Homo sapiens: one gene and its partner. The protein of the gene in region 2 purifies or fractionates together with the protein of the main gene of each other region. This does not show direct contact. Each region holds a gene or a part of one and is shown on either strand. Other genes may lie near its edges.

Region 1 (3,808 bases), on a different chromosome or scaffold from region 2:
AAAGGACTGACTTTAAGATTATATAAGAAAATCAAGGAATAAGAGGAATAAGACTAATGCTTAGGACCTACTCTTACGTTATCTGAAAAATGCCTCTGGGCCATCCTTTGTGTAGTGTGTAGACACTACAAATAACAGCCGGAATGGAGCCCGGAGACCCTTTTAAAACTTGTCTGGGCATGAAGTAAAGAAGTAACCAATAGCCAGCTATGAGAGTTTGGGATAAGGAGAGAATGGATACCTTTAGCAAACTGTAATCACTCACTTTGGTTCCAGGCCAAGAATAAATATCTACAAACTAAGAGAGAGATGTAAAATAATCTCTGGCTTACATGCGACCTGAATGACCATCCCTCTAAACTGCCGCATGACTCACCCTCTCTCTGCTCCTGCCCCATCCCTGCCCCCAGGAAGGTGTTGGGAAAACAATGAGGTACCGATAAGGAAAAAGAGGCTTTCTTTCAATTAAGGCAGCAGTATCAACCCCACCAGAATGTTCTCTTTGGCCTGTACCACTCAGCTTAGCTTGTAATGCTGAGTTTCTCAACTGCATTCAAAGGAAGAGGAGGACTGGTACAACCCACAAAATGGTCACCAGAAATCAGATTAAGCCAGAAAACTGCAAATTAGGTTAAAATTAAATTTACCTTCAATCTCTTCCTCCTCTTCCTCTTCTTCATCCTCATCGTCACTGGAATCACTGACCTGCACAGTTATGTCAGTGCTAGTTACAGGGGTCCAGTCAAAATAAACTCCAAAGCCAATGTCATAGTCATCGGTCGCAAACTCCCAGCAGACACGCTTCCCCTCTGGATGAGTAGGTACCCGGATGGTCACCACCTCACCACGCTTCACCACCAGACGGCTGTTCTTCTCTTTGCCCAGCTTGCTTTTGAATTCCTTCACCTTGGCAAAGGTCCAGATGCATGGAGGAGCCATCAGAGGTGGGGAGACTGAAAGGACAAGCAGCTTAGCACTGAGAAACCATGAGGAAACATGAGTACCCCGGGCATTTTGCTAAGAGAGGCTGGCACAGTCAGACATTCTTTCTACTGGCTTGACTTCCTTTCACAAGTCATTTTCTTTCCTTCCATTTGTCTGTCTGCCTGCCTTTCTTTGAGTATCTACTGGAAACAAACCACCTCCTTTACTCCCAAAGGTCTCACCTTTCCTGTGGTCCCCCAGAAGATCTGCAGATTCCAAATCAGCTGAAAGAACATCTATAGCTCCTGTATGTTCAGACTGGATCATAACGATGTCCCCAGACCTCTGTGGAACTTGATACTTAGCCATCTGCACAACAGAACTCTGGTTAAAGGAGTATTCGAGTGGCAGATTCTAATTAATCTCTTTTTGCATGAAGGCTGCCCCACCCCTGCTCTATTATCTCCACTATCCCCACTCAAAGCTTAATGTACTAGTCAATGTTCCTTCTCTTTCTTCCAAATAGAAGTTGCTAATAAATTCTACTAATTTTTTAAAGCCATCAAAATATTCCATTGTTTAAAGACTGTTTCCTACCTTTTGCAACTTTCCTGCTCCAAACCCTTTATAAGGTCCTTGTCCGCCAACACCCTCGCAGGTTGTTAACAGTATTTGCATTGACTGTGATTCTGGGCCATGCCTTGGTCTTACCTCACCTGCACAGTACCTCCCTGTGGCTCCTCTCATTAATAGCTCTTGCTCCTAGGGTTTAGTTTGACTCCCACTCTGCCACACATCCTCCTGCTACAATTCCCACTCAAGGGTTACTTCTACATTACTGTCAATCAGCTCTCCAAAGCACTGCAGAGACAGAATCTGGTTTATAGTCTTTCTCTCTCATCCACAGCCCACCTCGGGCTACAGATTGTCTCAGTCTTGAAGTCACTAACAGTGTTCTATCAATAGTTACAATTTCACCTTAGACCAGCCCCAGGACTTGCATTTAAACAGTACATTTGCTGCCAGACGTCTGACTTACATGGAAGAATGCAAATGGCATTTGATACTCAAAGCCCTCACTAACCCATGCGGGAGCTTACAATGTCTCCCTGGTGAGTTTCCCTTCAAATCACTCAGATTAGTGTTCCTGGTTTCATGCTATTATACCTTAATTTCTGCCCCTTCTCCAAACAGTTGGCAGGCAACTCAACAAGAAAACTATACCTATTGCCCACAGGGGAGAGCACATCAGTGAGTCAGCAATCCAGTTAAGAGGCTGGAATTGTATTTGTGAGAAATAAATAAATCAAGTTTGTAATCCTCCCAGGCTGTATTCTCATAATATCTGTTTCTGGAGAATAAGCCCTCCAGTTCTCATCTCCTTTGCTAACTGAAATGAATCAGACTTTGGCTAGCGTGCTTAAATAAATCCTTCCTTTTCTAAAATGCTAAATAAAGGATTAGGTTGCAACATATTAGCTACATAGCCTTAGTAAAGTCTCTAACAGCCCTCAGCCTCAGTTTCCTCATTTCTTTCTTTCATTCCTTTTGAGACAGAGTTTTGCTCTTGTTGCCCAGGCTGGAGTGCAATGGCACGATCTCAGCTCACTGCAACCTCCACCTCCCAGGTTCAAGCAATTCTCCTGCCTCAGCCTCCCGAGTAGCTGGGATTACAGACACCTGCCAACACGCCCAGCTAATTTTGTATTTTTAGTAGAGATGGGGTTTTTCCATGTTGGTCAGGCTGGTCTCGAACCCCTGACCTCAAGTGATCTGCCTGCCTCGGCCTCCCAAAGTGCTGGGATTACAGGCATGAGCCACCGGGCCCAGCCAGTTTCCTCATTTCTTAAATGGAGACACAATGGCACCTATCTGACAAGGTTGTTCTCAGGAGTAAATGAAGTGTTACAGATACAAATGCTTGTAAACTGTAAAGTATTATACAAATCTAATTATAACGCCTGGTGGTGTCTTCATTGACACTAATACCAACCATTATTCTAACACATATGCTAATAAATGATAGAAACAACCCCATCCCGCCCCCATCCCTCCATGGCAGGGGCACCACTACACCATCACTTCCATACAGCTACTTGGAAGGCTGAGGCAGGAGGATCACTCGAGCCCAGGATTTTGAGGCTGCAGTGAGCCATGACTGCACCATCGCACTGAAGCCGGGTGACAGAGTGAGACCTTTGTCTCAAAAAAAAAAAAAAAAAAAAAAAATCAAGGCCAGGCACAGTGGCTCACATCTGTAATCATAGCACTTTGGGAGGTCAAGGCGGGTGGATCACCTGAGGTCAGGAGTTCGAGATTAGCCTGACCAATATGGTGAAGCCCTGCCTCTACTAAAAATACAAAAATTAGCCGGGTGTGGTGGCATGTGCCTGTAATCCCAGCTACTCGGGAGGCGAGGTGGGACAATCACTTGAACCCAGGAGGTGGAGGTTGCAGTGAGCCAAGATCGTGCCACTGCACTCCAGCCTGGGCGACAGAGGGAGACCCTGTCTCAAAAAAAAAAAAAAAAAAAAGCTTCTGTGGAATCTTTATCATAAATACTAAATAGATCTACCACAAGAAAAGTAAGAGCAAAATAGTCCAATGACTTCAGGCTCCTCAATGAAGAGGATTTTAGAGAACACATGAACATTCACTCTAACACTTCGTTTTCTGAATCGGTGCCTACTGGGTGCCAGTACAATGATGGGCCCTGTGGAAGATACAAATAATCATTCTCCAAAAAATAATGAAGACCAAGATGCCCTAAATTAGAGGGCAAAGAGAGAATTCCGGGAGCCACCCTCGCAGTGCTTTCTAATTCCAACCCAACCACTATGTGTCCACATTCTGGTGCCTCCTTTCATAAGAAAGAGCCAGAATC
Region 2 (4,194 bases):
GCCACGACGCTCAGTTAATTTTTGTATTTTTAGTAGAGACAAGGTTTCGCCACATTGGCCAGGCTGGTCTCGAATTCCTGGCCTCAAGTGATCTGCCTGCCTCAGCCTCCCAAAGTGCTGGGATTACAGACGTGAGCCACCATGCCCGGCCTAGGAACCTTTTCTAAACATGGATTGGAGCAAGAAGGTGCAGGGATAGGGGATGGAGTCACATCAGGCTGGGCCACAGGAGGTGGGAGTGCCAGAGACTGGCTGGGCCCTGGGCACAGAGGGGTTAACTACAAAGCAAATCACAGAGAGCGAGATCAATGGGTTACTGGCTGCAGAGAGAGGAAAAGGCAGCAGCAACGCAGAGAGGCAGAGAAGAGCCAGGCAGAAGAGCCTGCCACCTGGGGGAAATCAGGGACTGAGGAGGAAGTGGCCAGTGGCTACTCCAGAGGGAGTGCCCAACTCCGGCTCAGCAGAGGGGGCAGAGGAGAGGAGGGGCCTTAAAGGCAAAGGGGGAGAAGTAGAAGGCAGACCAGTACCTGCAGGGAGGCACCAAGGGGCAGCCGCTGAATCAGGAGGCCCACCCAGCCCGGCCATTCCACCCAGGATCAAGCCCACTGCCCAAGGCGGAGGTGGGTGTTGCCCATCCTGGGCTTTGGGGACCTACTGCATGCTGGGTGCTGGGATGGGGGCAGACATTGCCTTTCTTCCCTACTCCCTGCCTGACCCCCCTTTCCCCTACTTTGTCCCACCACCCCAGTGGTCTCAAGCCTGCAAGGAGATCCACAGGCAGTAGGAGACATGGGCTGTAGAGTGGGATGGGGGTGAGCATGGGTGCGGTGTGCACACACACAAGTTGTCAGAGGCACCACCTGTTACAAGCTCTCAGATGAGCACTCTAGCTTAAGAGGCAGGATACCAGGGTGGCAACAGCCCCAGAGCTGCCATTTCGAGTGTGATATTATCCTCCCATGTCCCCTCTCTGGGCCTCAATTTCCCTATGTGCAGAGAGGAAGCAGTGACCTACACGGTCTTCCCAGTTTTGCCATTGTGATGATCTCACTATACTGGACCCTCCAATGACTCAGGGATGTTACCCGTGTTTTGCTAAGGCTACAGCTTGTAGCCAGAGAAAGCCCTAAACCCATGTCCCAGGGTCTCCCCTGAGCTTCAGATCCCCATTGAGAAGGAAAACATACCAGTTTCTGGGTTTGGCCCCTCCCCCCATCGCCATATCTTCATCCTACTTCGCTTGTGCCTTCCCCAGCCTCGTGGGTTGAAAGTGTCCCTCAAATACCTAGGTAGTCCTCCAGGCAGGACTCCAGGGGTGTTCCTTAGGAAACTGAGGAACTCTCACCCCTTGAACACCACGAGCTTGCTCACACAGTGACACTCAGCGATGACTTTGGCTCTGCTCTCCCCTCCTCCATCTCCCACGAGCTTCCAGCCCAGAACACCTGGCCAGACCCAGGTCGGGGGAGTTAGATCCCGGGGTCAAGCAACCAGAACTGGGGGCTCTTGCCTGAGGATTCCAGCTTCTCTTCCCAGGTGCCCGTCTGATGGGGAGATGGCTGATGCCCAGAACATTTCACTGGACAGCCCAGGGAGTGTGGGGGCCGTGGCAGTGCCTGTGGTCTTTGCCCTAATCTTCCTGCTGGGCACAGTGGGCAATGGGCTGGTGCTGGCAGTGCTCCTGCAGCCTGGCCCGAGTGCCTGGCAGGAGCCTGGCAGCACCACGGACCTGTTCATCCTCAACCTGGCGGTGGCTGACCTCTGCTTCATCCTGTGCTGCGTGCCCTTCCAGGCCACCATCTACACGCTGGATGCCTGGCTCTTTGGGGCCCTCGTCTGCAAGGCCGTGCACCTGCTCATCTACCTCACCATGTACGCCAGCAGCTTTACGCTGGCTGCTGTCTCCGTGGACAGGTGCGCTGTGCCTGGGGCCTGGCTGGGCAGGGCTGTGGGGGCGGGGGTTGGGGGAGGAGTCCTGAACAGATCCTCACTGGCCTTAGGAAGGAGAGAGTGGGGGACCAGAAAGGGAGGTGGGTGGGAGGAAACAAAAGCTCCCTGACCCCTCGCAAGCAGCCTCTGGGCACCTGCAGGGCGTGCTTGAGGGGACTGTCCTGCCCTTCCCCTCCTCCACTGTGAACTTCCAGAGGACGCCTCTGAGTCTCAAGTGGCAGCACAGGGTCTGGCACATAGTAAGTGCTCTGTAAGCGCGAAATGAATCGCAAAAGAAGCTCACGAATGCGTTCATCAGTTTTTTTGTTTTGTTTTGTTTTGTTGTTTTTTTTTTTTGGATCTTGGCTCACTGCAACCTCTGCCTCCTGGGTTCCAGCGATTCTCCTGCCACAGCCTCCTGAGTAGCTGGGATTACAGGCCACCACACCTGGCTAATTTTTTGTATTTTTAGTAGAAACGGGGTTTTGCCATGTTGGACAGGCTGGTCTCGAACCCCTGACCTCAAGTGATCCGCCCGCCTCGGCCTCCCAAGTGCTGGGATTACAGGCGTGAGCCACCGCGCCCAGCCCAGCTATTTTCTAACTGCCCACACCTGGCCAAGCTGTGCACACATCTGCTTCCACAGCTTGAAACTTGGGGTCAAATCCAGGCTCACTCCAGCTGATGACCCTGGGCAAGTCACTTCTCTCTGGACCTCATCTGACGCATCCATAAAATAATCCTAGAAATAACAAGTCACCGGGATCGGGCCCTTGCTAGGTGCAAGGGCCTAAGCACCTTGCGCGTTCACACCCTTAATCCCCGCCACGTCCCCCACGGTTCACAGGAGGCGCACTGGGCCGCAGGGCCCGGGCGCGGGACGTGGCGCGGGCCCCTGCGGGAGGGCACCTGCCCGCCCCGCTGACCAGGCGCCCTCCGCAGGTACCTGGCCGTGCGGCACCCGCTGCGCTCGCGCGCCCTGCGCACGCCGCGTAACGCCCGCGCCGCAGTGGGGCTGGTGTGGCTGCTGGCGGCGCTCTTCTCGGCGCCCTACCTCAGCTACTACGGCACCGTGCGCTACGGCGCGCTGGAGCTCTGCGTGCCCGCCTGGGAGGACGCGCGCCGCCGCGCCCTGGACGTGGCCACCTTCGCTGCCGGCTACCTGCTGCCCGTGGCTGTGGTGAGCCTGGCCTACGGGCGCACGCTGCGCTTCCTGTGGGCCGCCGTGGGTCCCGCGGGCGCGGCGGCGGCCGAGGCGCGGCGGAGGGCGACGGGCCGCGCGGGGCGCGCCATGCTGGCGGTGGCCGCGCTCTACGCGCTCTGCTGGGGTCCGCACCACGCGCTCATCCTGTGCTTCTGGTACGGCCGCTTCGCCTTCAGCCCGGCCACCTACGCCTGCCGCCTGGCCTCACACTGCCTGGCCTACGCCAACTCCTGCCTCAACCCGCTCGTCTACGCGCTCGCCTCGCGCCACTTCCGCGCGCGCTTCCGCCGCCTGTGGCCGTGCGGCCGCCGACGCCGCCACCGTGCCCGCCGCGCCTTGCGTCGCGTCCGCCCCGCGTCCTCGGGCCCACCCGGCTGCCCCGGAGACGCCCGGCCTAGCGGGAGGCTGCTGGCTGGTGGCGGCCAGGGCCCGGAGCCCAGGGAGGGACCCGTCCACGGCGGAGAGGCTGCCCGAGGACCGGAATAAACCCTGCCGCCTGGACTCCGCCTGTGTCCGTCTGTCTCACTCCCGTTCTCCGAAGGCGGGACGCCACCGGGCCAGGGATGGGGCAATGCCACGAGCTCTCTGAGGGGCGTTGAGTGGAGCGACTTGTCCCCGCTCCACAGCGGAGCACCAGCCCAGTGGACACCCCTGGGTGTGAATATGAACAGCACAGCCCGCCCCCAGCAGGGCAGCCCCCAGAGCCTGCCCAGAGCCAGCCTGGCAGTCCCTCTGCCCATTCTTCCAACTGGGTGACACCTAGGCCCTGCTTCCTCCACCACCTCTTAACTATCTCCTTCTTGGTTCCAAGCTCAGTCCTAGGTAATTTAACATCAACAGCTAATAAATGGCTAATATTTAAGTGGGACCAGGCGCTTGGCTCATGCCTGTAATCTCAGCGTTTTGGGAGGTCGAGGCGGGAGGATCGCTTGAGGCAGCAGTTCAAGGCTGCAGTGAGCCATGATCACGCTACTGCATTCCAGCCTAGACAGCAAAGCAAGACCTTGTCTCTAAAAACATTTATTAAGCAGGTACCATATGCCTCATGCTACATTCTTTGT

Evidence for each region.
Region 1: the proteins of GALR3 (region 2) and TMED8 purify together in Homo sapiens (affinity purification with mass spectrometry; one large-scale study listed by BioGRID and IntAct). This does not show direct contact.

The regions. Positions count from the first base shown.
Region 1 is NC_000014.9:77,342,531-77,346,338, forward strand, and holds part of TMED8 (protein TMED8), read right to left. Parts: intron 1,309-3,808; coding exon of another isoform or gene 1,294-1,308; coding exon 1,167-1,293; intron 954-1,166; coding exon 648-953; intron 1-647.
Region 2 is NC_000022.11:37,821,852-37,826,045, forward strand, and holds GALR3 (galanin receptor type 3), read left to right. Parts: upstream 1-1,530; 5' UTR 1,531-1,555; coding exon 1,556-1,914; intron 1,915-2,871; coding exon 2,872-3,619; 3' UTR 3,620-3,634; downstream 3,635-4,194. UniProt on the Homo sapiens protein: Receptor for the hormone galanin. Receptor for the hormone spexin-1.